2 separate regions of the Homo sapiens genome follow, and region 2 is linked to region 1. The links come from fine-mapping of genetic effects on plasma protein levels. A gene starts in region 1. The other region holds a variant in brackets. All regions are shown on one strand. Distances are from middle to middle.

Region 1 (8,000 bases):
GCATTAAGGGGGGTGTTGGGTTTTAATGAGGTGAGACCCACTGATGGAAAGTGACACCATCTAACTTTTCATTTAACTCTTAGTCATTAGTCATTGGCTGTATTTTCAGGGATCTATGAGTTCTCACATTTGGGACGCCAAATGTGCAGAGACCAGCATGGCTAGACTCTTCCTGTTCACAGCTCGCTGAACCATGATTACCGAACTGTGCTTACAGGGAGGGTCATTTCAAGAGACCACCGAAAACTCACTATTCTCACCTCTTTTTCAGGGATCTTTAAAAGAAACTTCCCACTTCTCTCTGTGCCAAGAATGCTTTTTTTCCTGAGCACTTTGCTTTCATCTTGAAGACACTGCTGGCTGTGCCCTGCAGGGTTTCCTCTTTCCCACTGCCTACAGGAAAGAGTATTTATGTATTTATGTTGTCAACCTTGGCTACCTGGGGGGCTTTGAAAATACCCGTGCCCAGCACGCCTCCAGAGATGCTAGTTTGTTTGCTCTGCATCCAGTCCTGGCATTTCCCTGAGTGCTTCAGGCAGTGCTAAGGTGCAGGCAGAGCTAAGACTCAGGCTTCCCTCCACATTCACGGCCCCACTTGAGTAACTTTAGCAGCATCTAGGTCATCAGGGTTTACACTGCACATGTCAAGCCTCATTTCAGACTCCACTTCATCTCCGCTCTTGTTTTCCTTTTACCCTACTTTTAATTTATGAGACCCCCTGTCCGCTCGTGGGCATGAGTCCTCTTGGGAAGTGATAGGTGTCTCCATCGTGCCGCCATGTGTGAGCTCCTGGATGTGCATGAAGAGGAGACAGCACAGAATCCAACATGCAGGCGACTGGGACCTTAAAGAGCTCCAGCCCCTTTCAGTACCTGGTGAGATAACTCGGGGCCAGGGCTTCCCACATGCTCCCTGCACTAGGCATGGCCGGGAGGCTCCAGCAGCATTTCCTGGACCCACAGCAGACAACCAGAGGAGAAAAAGGCTGCTGACAGTGCAGATCCTTGTCTTGTGCCACCAGCCCACCTCACAACCTCAAGAAGAAGAAAATGCAAACCAAGCACCCATTCACGGCAACAGATGGGTAGCATCCTGGAGCTGTGCCATGGCAGGTGAGCCACAGGTGCCCCTGACAACTTCTTTTAAAATGGCAAGAACCTAGTATATCCATTATGTAGCATAAGAATATAAGGATCTCTGTACTTCTCCACCCACTATGCTATGGTAGTTTCACCGCAATTGTCCAGCTTTGCCTCTCTTATTACTGAGATGTCTTCTCCATAATGTCCCAGCTTGCAGGTGGACACTCAGCTCGCACTGATGCATCCCAGCCACAGGGTTTCCATCTGCCCTGGTCCCTGTGCATGGCCAAGCCACAGAGTGTAGCTCCACCTCCTAGAGCTCCACATCCTAGGAACTGAGGCAAGGGACACCACAAACTTGGAGAATAGCAGCCCTGCGATTCTCTAGGGAACCACAGAGCTACATCTGTGCCCATCATCTCCTCGTCCTCTCCATTGGGGCTGCTGAGTGGTGTCCTCTAGGTAGCCAGTGCATCCACACCCTTGTACAAAGGGGCGGATTTCAAAGACCCCCCTTTTGAAGAGAGACTGCTGACATCCTATGTCTTACCAAGAAGACTCATGTCCATAAGGGGACAGAGGTTTTCACTTGTCGTATTCACCGCTGTCTCCCCACCACTCACCACAGTGCCTGGCACATAGTAGATAGTCAATAAATCTTTAATAAATTAGTGAATCTACTATTAAGCAGTGTTTCAACAATGGTGAGAGGTTGACTCAAAAGATGTCACAGGTTTCAGAACCATAAAAAAAAAACTTGATGTCACATTATGACATACAAGCAGGGCCTATTAGAAATGGGGGTGCTGCTCTGGGCCTGCCAAGGTCATGTGAGAATTCAGATCAAATATCCTTTCCTGAACAGCATGGAGGCCACATGAGAGTGGACGGGTGCAGGAGACGCTTCACACACAGCAGCTTGGCAGCTAGCCAGAGACTGAAAATAAATCAGAGTTCCACACCCCTGCCCCAGCAAACCCCATTCTCAAAGGCTCTACCTTTCTGTCTAGCATAAACGTTAACATCGGATATGAATACAGAATATTAAATGAAATATCAAATGAGATATCACACAATAAATTAGAAGGGATTGAGAAAGAAAACAATGCCAATAGCCGCTTGGTAAACTGGATGGCAAAAAGGACAGTGAACGTCCCCATGCCACCTCTGGCTTTCCTCAGCTCATCAATAGTCATGGAGTTCTGTTTCATACATTCAATGTCCAGAAGCCTGGCACCAAACCGCAGCGACTGAGACATCCATCACATTCCCGTGACGAATGGACCCTTGCTCCATGACCTCAAGAGCCCAAGTTCATGGTGTCCCTTGCCTCAGTTCCTAGAATGTAAAGCTAAATCACAGGAATGTGGCCATCTGAGAAGCTACCCTGCCCCAAAGATAAGGCAGTGGAGAGACAGCCCAGCAGGAGCCAGCATCTGCGTGCCTTCCCAGCGGCCTTCCTTCCTCCCGGCAGTGCAGAGGAGAAAGCCCTGGCAGGCAGGACGAGTGGGAGGGAAGACAGAGGGGGGCTGCATGCAGAGGTCTTACCCTCCTTCAGGACATCATCCTCCAACAAGTTGGTCACCTAAACTTCTGCTTCCCCCGCTGTAAAACAGGGGTGATGACAGCACCCTCCTCACAAGACTGTAGGGAGGGTAAAAGACCAGTTGCTGTCAAGGGCTTATAAACTGTAAAGTGCTGGGCATGACTGTTGTAAATAATGAGTGTCTTCTCAGCGCCTACTTGCTTGTAGCTACATTCCCTAGCACCATCCTTTATCTGGAGGGGCAACAAGTTACCCTCCCCAGTGTGGTTAAGGCCTCAGCCCTTACCTTGTTAAGGAGACTGACGGTCCTGAGCCTAACCTCTAAGAGGGACGCTCCTGAACCTGTAGAACGTAGCCGGATAGAAAACCTGAAAGCCATTCACACGGGAAGTCACACACCTACCTAGAACCCCCCTCCAGAACAACTGGCAAGTTCCTTCAAACGACCTGAACAACGTTAACTCTTGCTCCACACAAGAAACACACACACGCAGACCTCACCGCCATCCCCTTCTTACACAACACACTCTGACAACCAAGTGCAACTTAGGGAGGACGCTCACGGCGTCCTGCAGAGCGGGGGACTCGAAGGTGTCAAGGCTGTGGTCCGTCTCACCCCTACCTAGTCCCCGGATGCTCCAGCTTCCCCGTACCTGGACGGACGGCCGTGGAGGGTGATGGGATCCCAGCCCCGGGCGGAACCCGGCTCAGCTCAGAGGGGCGAGAGCCCTAGGAGCCGAGCGAGGAGTGCTTCGGTGCGCGGGCGCGCGATTGTCACATTCCTGCCGCTCCCTGGGGCGCGCGGGGCAGGCCGGCGCCCCCACCGCCCGGCCCGGCCGCTCTCCGGCTCCTCCCGGCCGGCGCCGCGCGCTCCGAGTCGGCTCCGGCCGCCGGCCACAAGCTGCGCCCGCCCTCGCGGCCGGGAACTGCCGGGCGCGGCTCTGGCTCTAGCCCCGCCGCTGCGGGGGCGGGGAACGGGCGGAGACGGCTCGGCTGGGCCAGTCCGCGGGCTGCGAGCGAGCTGGCCGGGTGTCCCAACTCTCCACCCGGAGGAGCAGGCGCGGCTGGACAGACCCCTGCGGACACCGCCCTGCCCCGGGTAGCCCGCAGGGGTCCCGCCGGTTCCAAAGCATTGGAGAGCTGCCGGGCGCTCTCGAGTCGCGGCCCGGCTCCTCCAGGGCTGCGGCGGCTCCACTAGAGTTAGTTGAGACAACTCACCTAGCCACTACGACCTGGCTCTACTACCCCCATGGAGCCTGGCTGCGACCCGCGAATTGAGTTGGCGACTCCAGGGCATCAGATCCCGAAGCAAACGCTCGCCAGAGCGACCTCTGGAGCTTGGTGCCTGGCCAGGGGCTCTCTCCGACTGGCTTTGTGCACTAATTTCTTTGTACCTCCGTTTCCTCTTCTGTGAAAAAGGGATCATAAGAGCACTCATCTCATGGAGTGGTTGAAAACAGTTTTTTAAAAAAAATGAGCTAATACATATAAAATAGTGCCAGGCCCAGAGCTGATACTACTCACGCGTTATCTGCTGGTTTCATTGTTGCTGTTACGCGCCCGGATGAAAAAAGCAATTTAAGTGTCATACTATAAAATCTTGATACCACACTTGGGGGCAGACAGGGTTTTTAAATTTTTAAACTTAAAACCCACTTATGCCCACCAGCTCACTTTGCCAATGAGAATTCACACCCAGGGGAATGGAAGGATGGCCAAGGTCATGCAGCGAACGAACGCCTGGCAGGATCACACCTTGGGCTCCTTGCAGGGAGAGGAGGGGAGGGCGCAGTGGTCGAGTCTGCAGCTCCCTCGGGCTTTCCCCCTCCACTTCGCTAGTCTTCAGCAAGTGACTGGCCCCTCCAGCTTGTTTGGAGGTCTTCATGGGCCATCCTCCAAGAAGAGTTTTAATAAATGATGATAGCTTCCTTCCTTCTAGTACACACCGCCCCTTCCTGCATCCCTTTCAGACTGGGCAGGCTCTTGTTCTCGTAACCCACCCCTGGATATGCCTCTTCAGAAACTCAAGAATTGAGGTAACCTGAGCCTCAGCTGCCCCCGGACAAATCCAGGCTGGAGGAAAAGATGAAGGAATGAGCAGCAGAAGCTCATCTGCCCTAAAAGCTGTCTTGCAACCTGGCATGATGACAATTTCTCATTCTTAAACAATCTGTTTCCAGAAGCTTTTATGGTTCCTTTTCCTCGAGAAAGCAGGCTTACATCAGAGGCCAGTGACGTAGCATTAAGAGAATTCCTTAACAATCCCAGCTCTCAATATTCCTTTATACAGCAGAAGGTCTCACAGCCTTGACTCCACTCAGAATCACCGGAGGACATGACACTCCTGTGTTCAGATCAGTCACGTCAGAGTCTCTGGGGCTGAGGCCCAAAAGGCAGTGTTTTTAAAGCTCCCAGGTAATTCCAGTGCAGCTGGGGTTGCAAGCAGTTGTTCCTCTAAGCTCCCACAGTGATGCCATTACTGTGAATCCTCCAACTGAAGGCTGCTTCAACCACGTGTCCAAATGGCAGTTCTGAAAGCTACAGCAGGTGGGCCTGGCTCCATGCTGTGGAACCAGCCCAGAAGCACTATGATGGTGAACATAAATTCGTCCTTCCATTTTCATAATGAAGGTTTTTAAGCAGTTTACAAGTAGAAAGTGAAATTGATTTGTGCAACCATGTAGAAATAAAATCCGTAATTTTTGTCTTTTTTAAGTGTTGTCCCCGTTCAGCCACTCCTACCCAGTGTCCTGCTAGACATGCAGGCCTCTAGACCCAGGTGGGACTCTCAAACACCCGCCCAACACAGAAATGGAATTGGAAGACCTCCTCTTTCTCACCTTATTACCACTGTTCTATCTGGGACCTTCAAGTCACCTTCTCCCTCACTCAGCCATCCTGACCACTTTCACTGACTTTCTCCTTCCCTTTATTTCCTTTCCTTGGATAACTGGTGTGCCTGCCTGTCTCACTCCATCCCCTGGGTAGGAGGCTTCCGTAAGGTGGAGACTGTCATCCCTGTATCCCTATCTGCTCTGGTCTCAGCACCACAAAAATGCTCTGAGCACATCAACATGCTTTAGTGTAAAGCCTACTGCTTACACTGACATTGTATGCTAGTGATGCAATCCAATGGCCCACATCTTGGACAAAAACTTACAAGAAACAGAAATAGCATTGTTAGCCTCTGGACACCTTCCGGGGTGTCTCCCTCCCACCTCTGAAATGCTTATCATTCAGGAGACTTAACTGAGACCCTGTCCCCTGAGGGTTTTCAGTTTCTCCTCCACTTGTCTAGCTGATCAGATCCCAGGACCCTCTTTGGGAAGAGTTTCTGATAATGCACATGAAACAAAATCATATTGACCAACACAACATAATCCAATGCCTGAAAAATAAAGCATCTCCTATGGCCCATGTGGCAGGACATTTTGAAAGACTGTCCATTATAAACATTAAGGCTAGGCTTGAAAGAAGAAGTATTTTATGTTTTTTTTCCTTGAACCTCCAAAGCCAAAGTATTGGACAACTTAGACCATAAGGTTTACATCATAAACCACGGAGTACAGAAGAATGTATGGTAATGTAAAGCTATTTGTTTTTGTTCCCACTCCAAGGAACAGAGTTGACCAGCAGGTGGGAAGGGGAGAAGCAGAGGGAGGGAGCTGCTCTTTACTAGACCCTGAAAGGTTTCTGAGGAGTGACTCAGAGCTTCCACTCTTCAGCACCACCTAATAAGAGAAATCCTGGTGTGTTAGGCCATTCCTACATTGCTATAAAAAAATACCTGAAACTGGGAAATTTATAAGAAAAGAGATTTAATTCTCTCATGGTTCTGTAGGCTATACAGGAAGCATGGCACTGCCATCTGTTGGGCTTCTGAGGAGGCCTCAGGAAACTAACAATCATGACAGAAGGTGAAGGAGGTGCAGGTACGTCACGTGGCCAGAGCAGGAGGAAGCGAGAGAGAGGTGCGGGAGGTGCCACTCACTTTTAAATGACCAGATCTCATGTGAACTCAGAGCAAAAGCTCGCTTATCACCAAGGGGATGGCCCAAGCCATTCATGAGGGATCTACCCCCATGATCCAAACAACTCCCACCAGCCCCCACCTCCAACATTGGGGATTACATTTTAACATGAGATTTGGGCAGGGACAAATATCCAAACTGCATCACCTGGCCTCCTCCTGACTGAAGAGGTTGATGGAGAAGACTGGAAGAGAGGGATGCCATTTGGCTTCCCAGCCTAGTTCTGGACACCACCAGGGTCATAGCAAAGCCCCCGTGTCCAACATGGCCTGAGCCAAACAGCAGGCCTGGCAGCAGATATGCCTGGGCCTGAGGACAGGCTGCCTTGAGAAAAGTCCAGTGCATCCCAGAGTGTTCAAGTAAAGCAGCTGAGAGTCCCCAGACACTCAAAGGGGGCAGTGCAGAAGCTAAGAAGACCAAAGAGCCCTTGGACCTAGTCTGATGGGACAAGCATGGTCCTAGCTGAAGTTTTCAAGAACAGAGGATAACTCATGGACCAGAACCCCTCCCGGGACACCAGGACAACCATTCTTCAGCTCGGTCCACTTTAGCCCCACCACCCCCAAAGAACTCCATTGATCCTTCAGAAAAAACAAATGCAGGGTTTGGAAGGAAAGAATTCTGAAGAGATTGTGTTACTACCCCCAGAGAGACTGAGTCTTGAACCAGTGGGGACAAAACAACTCTAAATTAGTGAGATCTTTTTCTACCATCAGGTGGAAATGAGAATTCCTAAGTCTAGTTGGCTTCAATTGTAAAGAAATAAAGAAAATTACATTTTTGCACAGAGGGCCTCTGTGATTCTTAATTTGCTACACATATTTTTGTTATTTATGGCACTGCCAGTAAACTCTCACAGAACCACAACAAAGATTGGAAACCACTGTCCTAGATGGACTTCCTTCTACAGCCTAGGTTTTTTATCGCTCCTCTCATACATTTTCCATCTGCTGACTTTCAAGTAACTATTTTCTTATCTACATTTCGCCTTACTTTTTCTCACTACAACTTCTCAATTTCAATCTACTCAACACTCTCCCTTTCCCTAGGCAATTGGTGGTGGGCTACTATGATTATCTTTCCGTTCAAATTCCTCTGATTTAATAAAACCTTTACCAACCAGAAAGCCACATGTGAACAGGAAATAAGAGCTGATGAGAAAGTGTGACATATTTCATAAGACGGTCATAGGCAATAAACCATTTCTTAACCTCCTTAATAAGAGGAGGAAGATAAGACATAAGTGACAGGCAAACCAGCCAACTGTTTGTGCTAATTGCAGCTTGAATCTTGCTCAGTGAAGGCAAATGAGTGAAAGAGGCTTCTTGCACCTGGTTTTT
Region 2 (8,520 bases), 110 kb after region 1:
CTCCATGAGGTGTCTGAAATCAACCCAGCCTTTTGACTTTGAAGATACGTCTCCTGAGTTTCCCCAGGATGGACAAAGCTGAGGAAAAGCTGACTCAGAAAGACAAGGCAGGTCCAAGTGTTTGCCGAGAAAAATGCACTCAGCACTCTACATAATTCCCAAAGGACTTTCTTCTAAAAATATTTTTATTAGAGTCTGAAATAATTTAATCACAGACTTGTATTTAGTCAGAGCTCAGCAAGTACTCCGTGCCGAACAGCGATATTCTTTCAGGCTTTTAAACAGGAAACTGAATCCAGAGAGCAGAAAACACAGAACCGTGCCCATGATGACTTGGAAAAGTTACCCTCTGCTCACACCAAACTCCCAAGTGTCCCCTATTTCATTGGGAACACATTAAGGATGAAACTAAAGGGGAGAACTTGAGGGTTCTTTTCCCAGTGAGATAAAGGAGCTCAAGGCTGGAGTGCCATTGACAGCCTGGCAGCAGGCAATCTTAAAGAGGAAGAAGACTGGTAACTGAGCAGGAGGGAATGATTCCTGGGCTACTAGTCAAATCTTCTCCTTAGATTACAGGGAAGACCTTCCTTGTTAGCTGTGAGAACATCCCACCGCCGACGGATACCAAGCACCAACGTATTTCATCCATTCATTCATTTGACATGTCTTTGACATTGGGAAACCTGTAGACCTCGGCTTTCCAAACAGCATCGATCAGGCTGGATTCCTCTGAGGGATCCAGGGGAACACATGGATAGTTAAACAGACCACTGGGGGAAAACACTGGGACACGGACACGCCAGGAATAAGTACTGAACTTCCTAGATGGACGTGGAGGTGTTGGACAGGGACTTTGCCTTGCTTGTCTTTAAAATCAGAAACAGAGGGTGTTTTGGCAAGTCTAAATTTACTGATTTTAAAGCTCCCACAAGGAAGACCCACATGAGACAAAAATCTAGAGGAGTATGCTAGGATAAAGCAGTAAGTGAATGAATGAATTTCTGGTACAAAAAGCAAAGGGCCGGGAGTACCAGACCACAGGTGTTAGAAAGAAAAGAAGTCAAACCAGGGGTTCCAGCCCATGCCACTCATTAGAATCCCCCAGGACCCCAATCACTTACAGCAGAGGCCCTGGGCATGGGTCCAGACACCAGTGGCATTGTTGTTTCACCTCTCTAGATGATCCCAGTCTGCCGCTGAGGACCCACGCTTAACTGGTACACAGTCACTCGAGGCATACCTCTCCACTTCCAAAAAATATCTATGCAACAGAAACACCATACAGCATCTTGAACATTGAAAAGCCGAGGAAGAGAATTGCATACTGAGGAGTACATGGCAAGAAGGTCATTCTCACCCAGGGGTGGAAGCACTTTGAGTGATCTGCTGAGGGTCATTTTGCACCTGGAGTGCGGCTGGGGAAGAGCCCTCTTCTCAGAAAAGGTGCAGAGGCCTAGAAAGTTCCATACCAGGAGGTCATGGTCCCTGTCGCCTTGAGGACAACAGAGTGGGGAAGCTCTGTCACTAAGACAGAAGCCAAATCATCATGGGCTTACGGGAAAAACACAGTGAGAAGCTCCGAATATGCTAGATGGGGAAGAAAGTCTCCAAAAAAGGACTGGAGCCTGGGAGACTGGGGAGCTACCCCTGAAGATTATTCAAGAAAGCCCAGGGTCCCAAATGCTGAGATAAGATGCACGGTGAAATTTCCCCTAGATGTGACAAAGGTGGTACTGTCACTAATTCCTGCTGGAATAATTGGCCAAAGAGAGCTAACATTCCCAAGTCATGGGTTCTAGACCTAACCATAGAAATCGAGGTGCTCCCACTGACAGCAGGAGTAAGAATGTCCTGGAGGGCTTGCGGAACGAGGATACTGGGCCACCCTGTGGCTCTAATCAGCAGAGGGATGCTGATGATACTGGACTGAGGTCCACCTGCATCCCCCATTCTTTCCCCTGATATCTCCGAACTGCTGCTGTGGTCACTGTTACTGCTGGGTATGGATTCCTGGGAGCAACATTTGTCCAGAAAAACTGCTCCAGGGACCAGAGAATGGCTTGTCTTAAAATTCATTGCAGGTGGGGTCAGGGCTGTGCTGATCTTGTATAAATGCCTGGGACACATTAAAAGGGGACATGCGAGGCCAATGCAATGCCCTAAGGAGCCACACCCTTCCTTGCAGAAGACGGAAGACAGCCTTGACTGCAGTCCCCTCTCCTGGATGGAGCAGCCTCTTTGCTGGGATGGAGCAAGAAGGAGCTGTGGAGAAACTCAGGCTTTAATTTTAAAATTTTTGAGGCTTAGTGTACATCCTTTTTAGATATTGCCCAGGCTACAAATGTAAGACTACATTTCTATGCGGCACTAAGCTTTTGCTGCTAACGCTTCTAAGGTTTTATGGCAGTTGTTTTACCATGCTTCATAAAGGATATTTGGTATTCTTGAGAGAATAAAATAAAATAAAATTGGGAGCATATTTATTTTGTTGGCTGTTTACTTTTGGCCACTTAATTTCTGTGCAGAGCTTCTGATGAGCTGTAGCAGACAAGGCAGGATGTAATTGTGTTGTAGGACCTTTGTCCTTAGTTCAGCTAACAGCCAGGTTCTTGTCACATGGCCATGAGAAATTAGGCTTGCAGATACTTTGAAGGGTGAGACAAGTGGAATTTATTGGGCAAAAAGGGGGGAAAAAAGAGAAACAGGGACCCTCCGCAAAGGCAGAGCACTGCTAGTGTGCTTCCCGCCTCGCAGATTGAATCCCTGGTTCCACCCAGGAAGAGGACGAGCCAGGCTCCTCCCCGCCGCAAAAGGCTTGAACTTCCCAAGTCTCCACCCCAGTGCGCAGGCCTATTGGAGTTTTTCCGGCAACCCCTTTGCACTTGGCTGTCCCAGTTGTATTAACCATGTGTTTCTGATGCTTTGGTACGTGGGACCTTGTTGCTTTGATACCTGGGCCTTTCCCTGGTTTAGCCAATTCCTAGAGATAGTAAACAACTTGCCTACTTCTGCAACATGCTTTTCAAATGCAAATCGACCAATCCAGAGCCACACCCCAACCACCTCTTTTATGGAACTCTCACCCTCAGGGTCACTATCCACACCCAGTGAGGGACAGCCCATGCACCAAGAGCCCAAGGAAACCATTCAAACCAGCCAATCCTAAGCCTGCCTACCCTGCCTCACCCACTCCTTCCCACAGAAACCATCGGAAGAGCTCTCGCCCACACCTTCCCCTCACTCCCTCAGCCTCCTGATCGGCCCTAGTGCTTCTCTGGGCACCCTCCCAACCGCCATGGTGTGGTGTGCCCCTCCTGCTGGGATCTGGGGGATACCACTGTATTTTCAATGGCTATTGTCTCCTGATCTGTTGGCCTCACCAAACCTGAATAATAAAGCCTATATTTGAAAACAGCAATTTGGGGTGGGAAATATAACAAGGTGAACAGTCAGCCTGAGGTATAGTATGGCTTTGAGACTAATTTAATTCACAGACTGTTCTTAGCTGTTTCTGTGCTTTCTGGGGGCTAAATCCACATTGTCCCTGCAGTGGGCTCAGAAGGATCCAGGGACTCACACTCTTATTTCCTGAGAGAGTAGCCTCAGACCCAGCGGCAGGACTGCACGCTGGACGCCTCACCTCCATCCAGTAGGACAGTGACGCCTTGATTGGTCACAGGCCACAGGCTAAGAGAACAAAAAGCTGGGAAATACTGTAGGAGAGGACACTCGGTTCCTACTTCTGATTCTTCCTTCCCTGTGAAGGAATCCTTATTACAGTCCCCCTGGTCCCCCAGATTCCAGATGTACCTTCTACCGGTTTCGGGAGATGAACTCTTTGTGGTAGCTAGTCTTCCCCTAGAAAAGCAAATATTTGCTCTGCTCCTGACTGTAACCTTGACTCAAACCAGCCCCTGCATGGGCCAGCTGTTTCTCAGCTGTCGAATCCTGGGATTCGGTATTAAGAAGCCCATTGCTGCTGCACATCTAAACCACACTCTCTAGGAGGTAATTTTTAAATTAGGTGAGCTTCAGTTTCCTTACCTCTAAAATGTGAATTATAATCTTTGCCTGGTGGATTTTTTTTTTTTTTTT[TTTG/G]AGGATTCAATTGAGCAAAACATGTAAAATCTTGCACAATGTAGACATTTAGATGTTGGTTTCTCCTCCTTCATTCTTGCTTTATTTCTCCCACTCTTTTTTATCTAAAGCTTTCTCTCCCCTTGTCCTGGAAGCTGGCTGAGTAGTAGTTCCTGGCCCCTGAAGCTCGGCCTCCACCAGGGGTCTGGTAGCTGTCTGGGCAGTTTCTGAAAAACCACTGGGCAGTGGGTTCTGGGAGTTCCTTTGTAGGAGGTTTTGTTTTGCTTTGCTTTTCTGAAGAATGAGGAAGTGGGTTTTGCAGGCATGCCAAGGAGGAGGAGAATGTGCTGGTGCCTGAGCCCTGTGGGAGGGAGCTTTCTAGCCCACCACCCCTGCTTTGAGGACTGGCTGAACCCATGAGCCAAGAAAGGAGGAGCTTTCAGGAGTGCACAAGCTGGCTCCAGCACGGAAGCTGGCAGAGGCTACAGCCCAGGTGGCGTCTGGATGGCTTCTCCACTGGTGGCAATGCCTTCTTGGAGCCCAGTAGCAGTAACGAGTAGCCCTGATGGGTGGCATGGGCAGAGATGCCAATGGGTGAGGACCGCAAGAACAGGAAAGCAACCACAAAACACAAAGCACCTTTGTGTGTCCAAGTGAACTATTGGCAGGACATCATGGAAAAAACCAATGAGAGTTGAGTGTAGAGACAGGAGCAGAGAAACTTAGCTGAGTCCCACTGATAAGACCCATTTGCTCACACAGGCTGGAAAAGTCCAAGTGACACACGCTGTATCCATTCTGCAGACACTTCTTAAATGCCTGTGCCGCAGCAAGACACCGTGCCCGGTGCTGGGGTGCATCAAGGAACGAGAAGGCTCCTGCCTTGAGGAACTTACAAGAAACAAACATCCCACCCTTTCTGTGAAAGAGTCCCTATATATTCCCATAGCATTCAAAATACTTGAGAGATCACATTTGTTTTTTAGCTCATAAATTATTCTTGGCTTCTGTTGTTGATGTCTGCTCTCATCCTTAGTTCTTGCAGAAGTGGCATTTATTACATAAGACGTGGGTTTTTCCTGTGGGCAGTGCATGGAAGTGTGAGGTTTCCAAAAACTATTTATCACCCCCTCTCCCCAGCCTTTGTAGGGTTGGGGGTGAAAAAATTCACCTTCAGAAAGTTAAAACAACAGAATCAACAAAAAATAGAGGAGATAGGCCACTTTAAGAAAAGAAACCACATTGTTTCACTTGTCCATCTGTTTGTGTGTTCAAATTGGACTTAGGGACACAGAATTAGGTTAGTCATAATCCTTGGTTCAAGACACAGATTCTATATTGGTCCCTGAATAGCTTGTGTTTTTTTTTAATCTGTTTGTTTAATAATAAAGTAAACAATCACAGTCTACTACCTAACATGAGATCTAGAACTTAATGAAGTTTATGTTTTCCTAATCCATCCCAACCCTGATGTAATCACTATCCAAACAAACACACACACACACACACACATCTATATTTAAGAGCATATATATGACAAAAACTACATTTTAACCGTGTGTGTGAATATATATGAAGATGCTTTCACATATTCGAGAGAGAGCATATTAACTTTAGTTGTTTTCACTTTATGTAAAAGGACATCATTCTAAGAAATGTTTCTGGGACTCATTCAATAATATATATCTAAGATTCATCCATATTGTTCCATGTTGTTTTTTACTGTAGTGCATTTTATTACTTGTAAGAGCTACACATTCTCTTGTCTAGCGGGTATTGAGTTTTTGCTGGATTGTATTTTACTCTTTATTATGGAAGTTTTCAAACATATACAAAAGTAGAAAGAATGATATAAGGAAGCAGGGTGCAGTCATCACCAAGGCCAACAGTTATCAACATTTGGCCAATCTTATTTCATGTATTCTCCCATCCACCACTGGATAACTTCGAAGCAAATCTCACACATCACCCATAAAAAATTTAGTCTGCCTCAGCCAGGCTCGGTGGCTCACGCCTGTAATCCCAGCACTTTGGGAGGCCGAGGCTGGTGGATCACGAGGTCAGGAGATCGAGACCACGGTGAAACCCCGTCTCTACTAAAAATACAAAAAAAATTAGCCAGGCACGGTGGCGGGCGCCTGTAGTCCCAGCTACTCGGGAGGCTGAGGCAGGAGAATGGCGTGAACCCGGGAGGCGGAGCTTGCGGCGAGCTGAGATCGCGCCACTGCACTCCAGCCTGGACGACAGAGCAAGACTCCATCTCAAAAAAATAAATAAATAAATAAATAAATAAATATTTAGTTTGCCTCTTAGATAATAACCTTTTTTGAATGCAGCAATGCAAATATCACACTTATTCCTTAATATTAGCATAAATCCAGCACTCAAAATTCCCCGATTGTCTCGCATCTTTTCTACCTGTGTGACCCCACACTTCTGAAATAGTGGAGGGGAGGAAATGCGTAACCTGTGAGGTCAAGGCAGAGTCTGAAAGCCGATGGTGGTTCTCCTCCGGCTGCAGTCAGCTCCTTTTCTGGGTCATTGCTGAAACAGCCAGAATCTAAAGCGGGGGACTCCAGAGAGCACTGGAGAAGTTCGAGGAAGGAAGAGAGATGCAAGCGCGTGGCCCCAAGCCTGAAGATAAAGAAAAGGCAGAAGCAGTCAAAGAACCCTGTGCAACGTCCTCACCGAATCCTCCTTCTCAAACCTCACTCTCCTCTCCTTTCCGGTTAAAATCTAATAAGGTGTTCAAAGGCCTCTGCCGGCCCCTCCGTACTTCTCCCTCCCTGAATGCTTAGAAAACAGAAGAAGGAAAGAGGAGATGATAACAGGAAAATAGAAAAGCGAGGGTCAAAAGTTAACTGCTCAAAACCGCCTTCACCTAAACCAGGCATTGGCAAACTTTTCCTGTAAACGACCAAATAGTAAATATTCTAGGTTTTGCCATCTCAACTACTCAACTCTATCTTCAAAGAGCAAAAGTGGCCAAAGACAGTCTGCAAACAAACAGGCAAGGCTGTTTCCTAATACTCTTAATCCACAGAAACAGAGGGCAGGCTGCATTTGGCCCACAGGCTGTGGTTTGTCAACACGTAGTCCAAGTACAACAATTTTTATTTCTGTCTATTCCTCCTATGTTTTTGATTATTAAACAGTTACTATAGTTGAAATAGAAAAATAGGAAAAATGGAAATATAAAATATAGCTAAATAGCTAAGTTAATTTGGACTAAGTGATTATCCCCATTTTTCAGATGAGAAAATTGATGTACTTTGAGATTAAAGGATTTGCCCAAGATCACAGAGGCACCATGTGGCAGTGCTTGAACTTGAACTCACAAAGTCTGCCTTCAAAGTCCAAGTTTTTAAGTTTTCTCCTTGTCTAGATGCAAACAAATGTCAATATTGTAACCATAAAAATTGTACAAAACAATGTATAATATTTCCTTAACACTGTAAACATTTAAGTCTTACAATTTTGATAATTTGGTCATTATAGTATTGATCATTATAATTGATAATTGCTGCATAATTTTTCATCATTGGGGTAATAAGTTTTATTAAATTATTTTATATCTCTAATGATTTTATTTTATTAAATTATTTCCTAAGCTAAATTCCCAGGAGTAGTATCACTGGGCATCTCTCAAACCTTGTTGTTATGTACTGGGGAAGAGAGTGCTGATTTGTGGCAACTGCCAATTTCTGTGGTGTAAAGACTCCACAATGGCCACAGATTTTAAGCTACCAACATGACATCACTGAACAGAGCCAAGAAGAGAGGCACATCCTGGGCTCTTGCAAGAAGATGCAAGCTGGTCCAGCACCCAACTGACTTGGCTCATGTTGCCTTTCTTCTTCCCAGCACCAAATTATAAATTGAATTAAAGTGTGAGAGTGTTTCATAAAAACTTTTAAACACTTGATAGTGTGTGAGTGCACTGGTATCTCAAATTTGCTCTAATTTACATCCCCTGGTTCTTACTGAAAGTGTCATTTTTCCATGAGTTCCTTTATGTGTGTCTCTTCTGCAATCCCCTACTCACATTTTTTCATCTGTAGGGTGATGATGCTACTATAAACTGAATGTTTGTGTCCTCCCAAAATTCATATGTTGAAACCCTAACCTCCAATACAATGGTATTAGGAGTTGTGGCCCTTGGGAGGTGATTAAGTCAGGAGGGCTGCCGTCTATTAGCCAGGAAGTGGGCCCTCACCAGACACCAAATCTGCTCGCACCTTGATCTTGGACTTCTCAACCTCCAAAACTGTGAGAAATAAATTTCTGTTGTTTACAAGCCACCCTAGTTATGGTATTTTGTTGTAGCAGCCCAAAAAGACTAAGACACATGCCTTTTCTATGACTTTGAATAACTCTACACATGATAGTTACTCATTCCTTGAACTTGTCTGACACAATTTTGTCTAAACCTTGCTTTTGTTA

Direction of the effects. Alleles are on the strand shown, and positions count from the first base shown. The strength of an association depends on the size of the effect and on how common the allele is.
For the plasma level of the protein whose gene starts at base 3,557 in region 1, G is the high allele of the variant in region 2 and TTTG is the other (weak association).

The links. PIP is the chance, under the fine-mapping model, that this variant and not a neighbour inherited with it causes the effect. The UK Biobank Pharma Proteomics Project read protein levels with antibody pairs (Olink). The fine-mapping took linkage between variants from a reference panel, not from the people measured, so its PIPs are less certain.
Region 2: its variant is fine-mapped to the plasma level of the IL1R1 protein (UK Biobank, PIP above 0.99).

Annotation. Positions count from the first base shown.
Region 1 is chr2:102,138,303-102,146,302 of GRCh38, reverse strand. It overlaps IL1R1 (interleukin 1 receptor type 1), which reads right to left and starts at 3,557. Exons shown (of 12, transcript NM_000877.4): 1 at 3,283-3,557. RefSeq lists enhancers at 2,340-2,634, 2,400-2,694.
Region 2 is chr2:102,029,494-102,038,013 of GRCh38, reverse strand. No RefSeq gene overlaps it. Among named protein-coding and RNA genes, the nearest start is that of IL1R2, 42 kb to the right of the region's middle. The variant TTTG/G (reference allele first, on the strand shown) is at 4,096.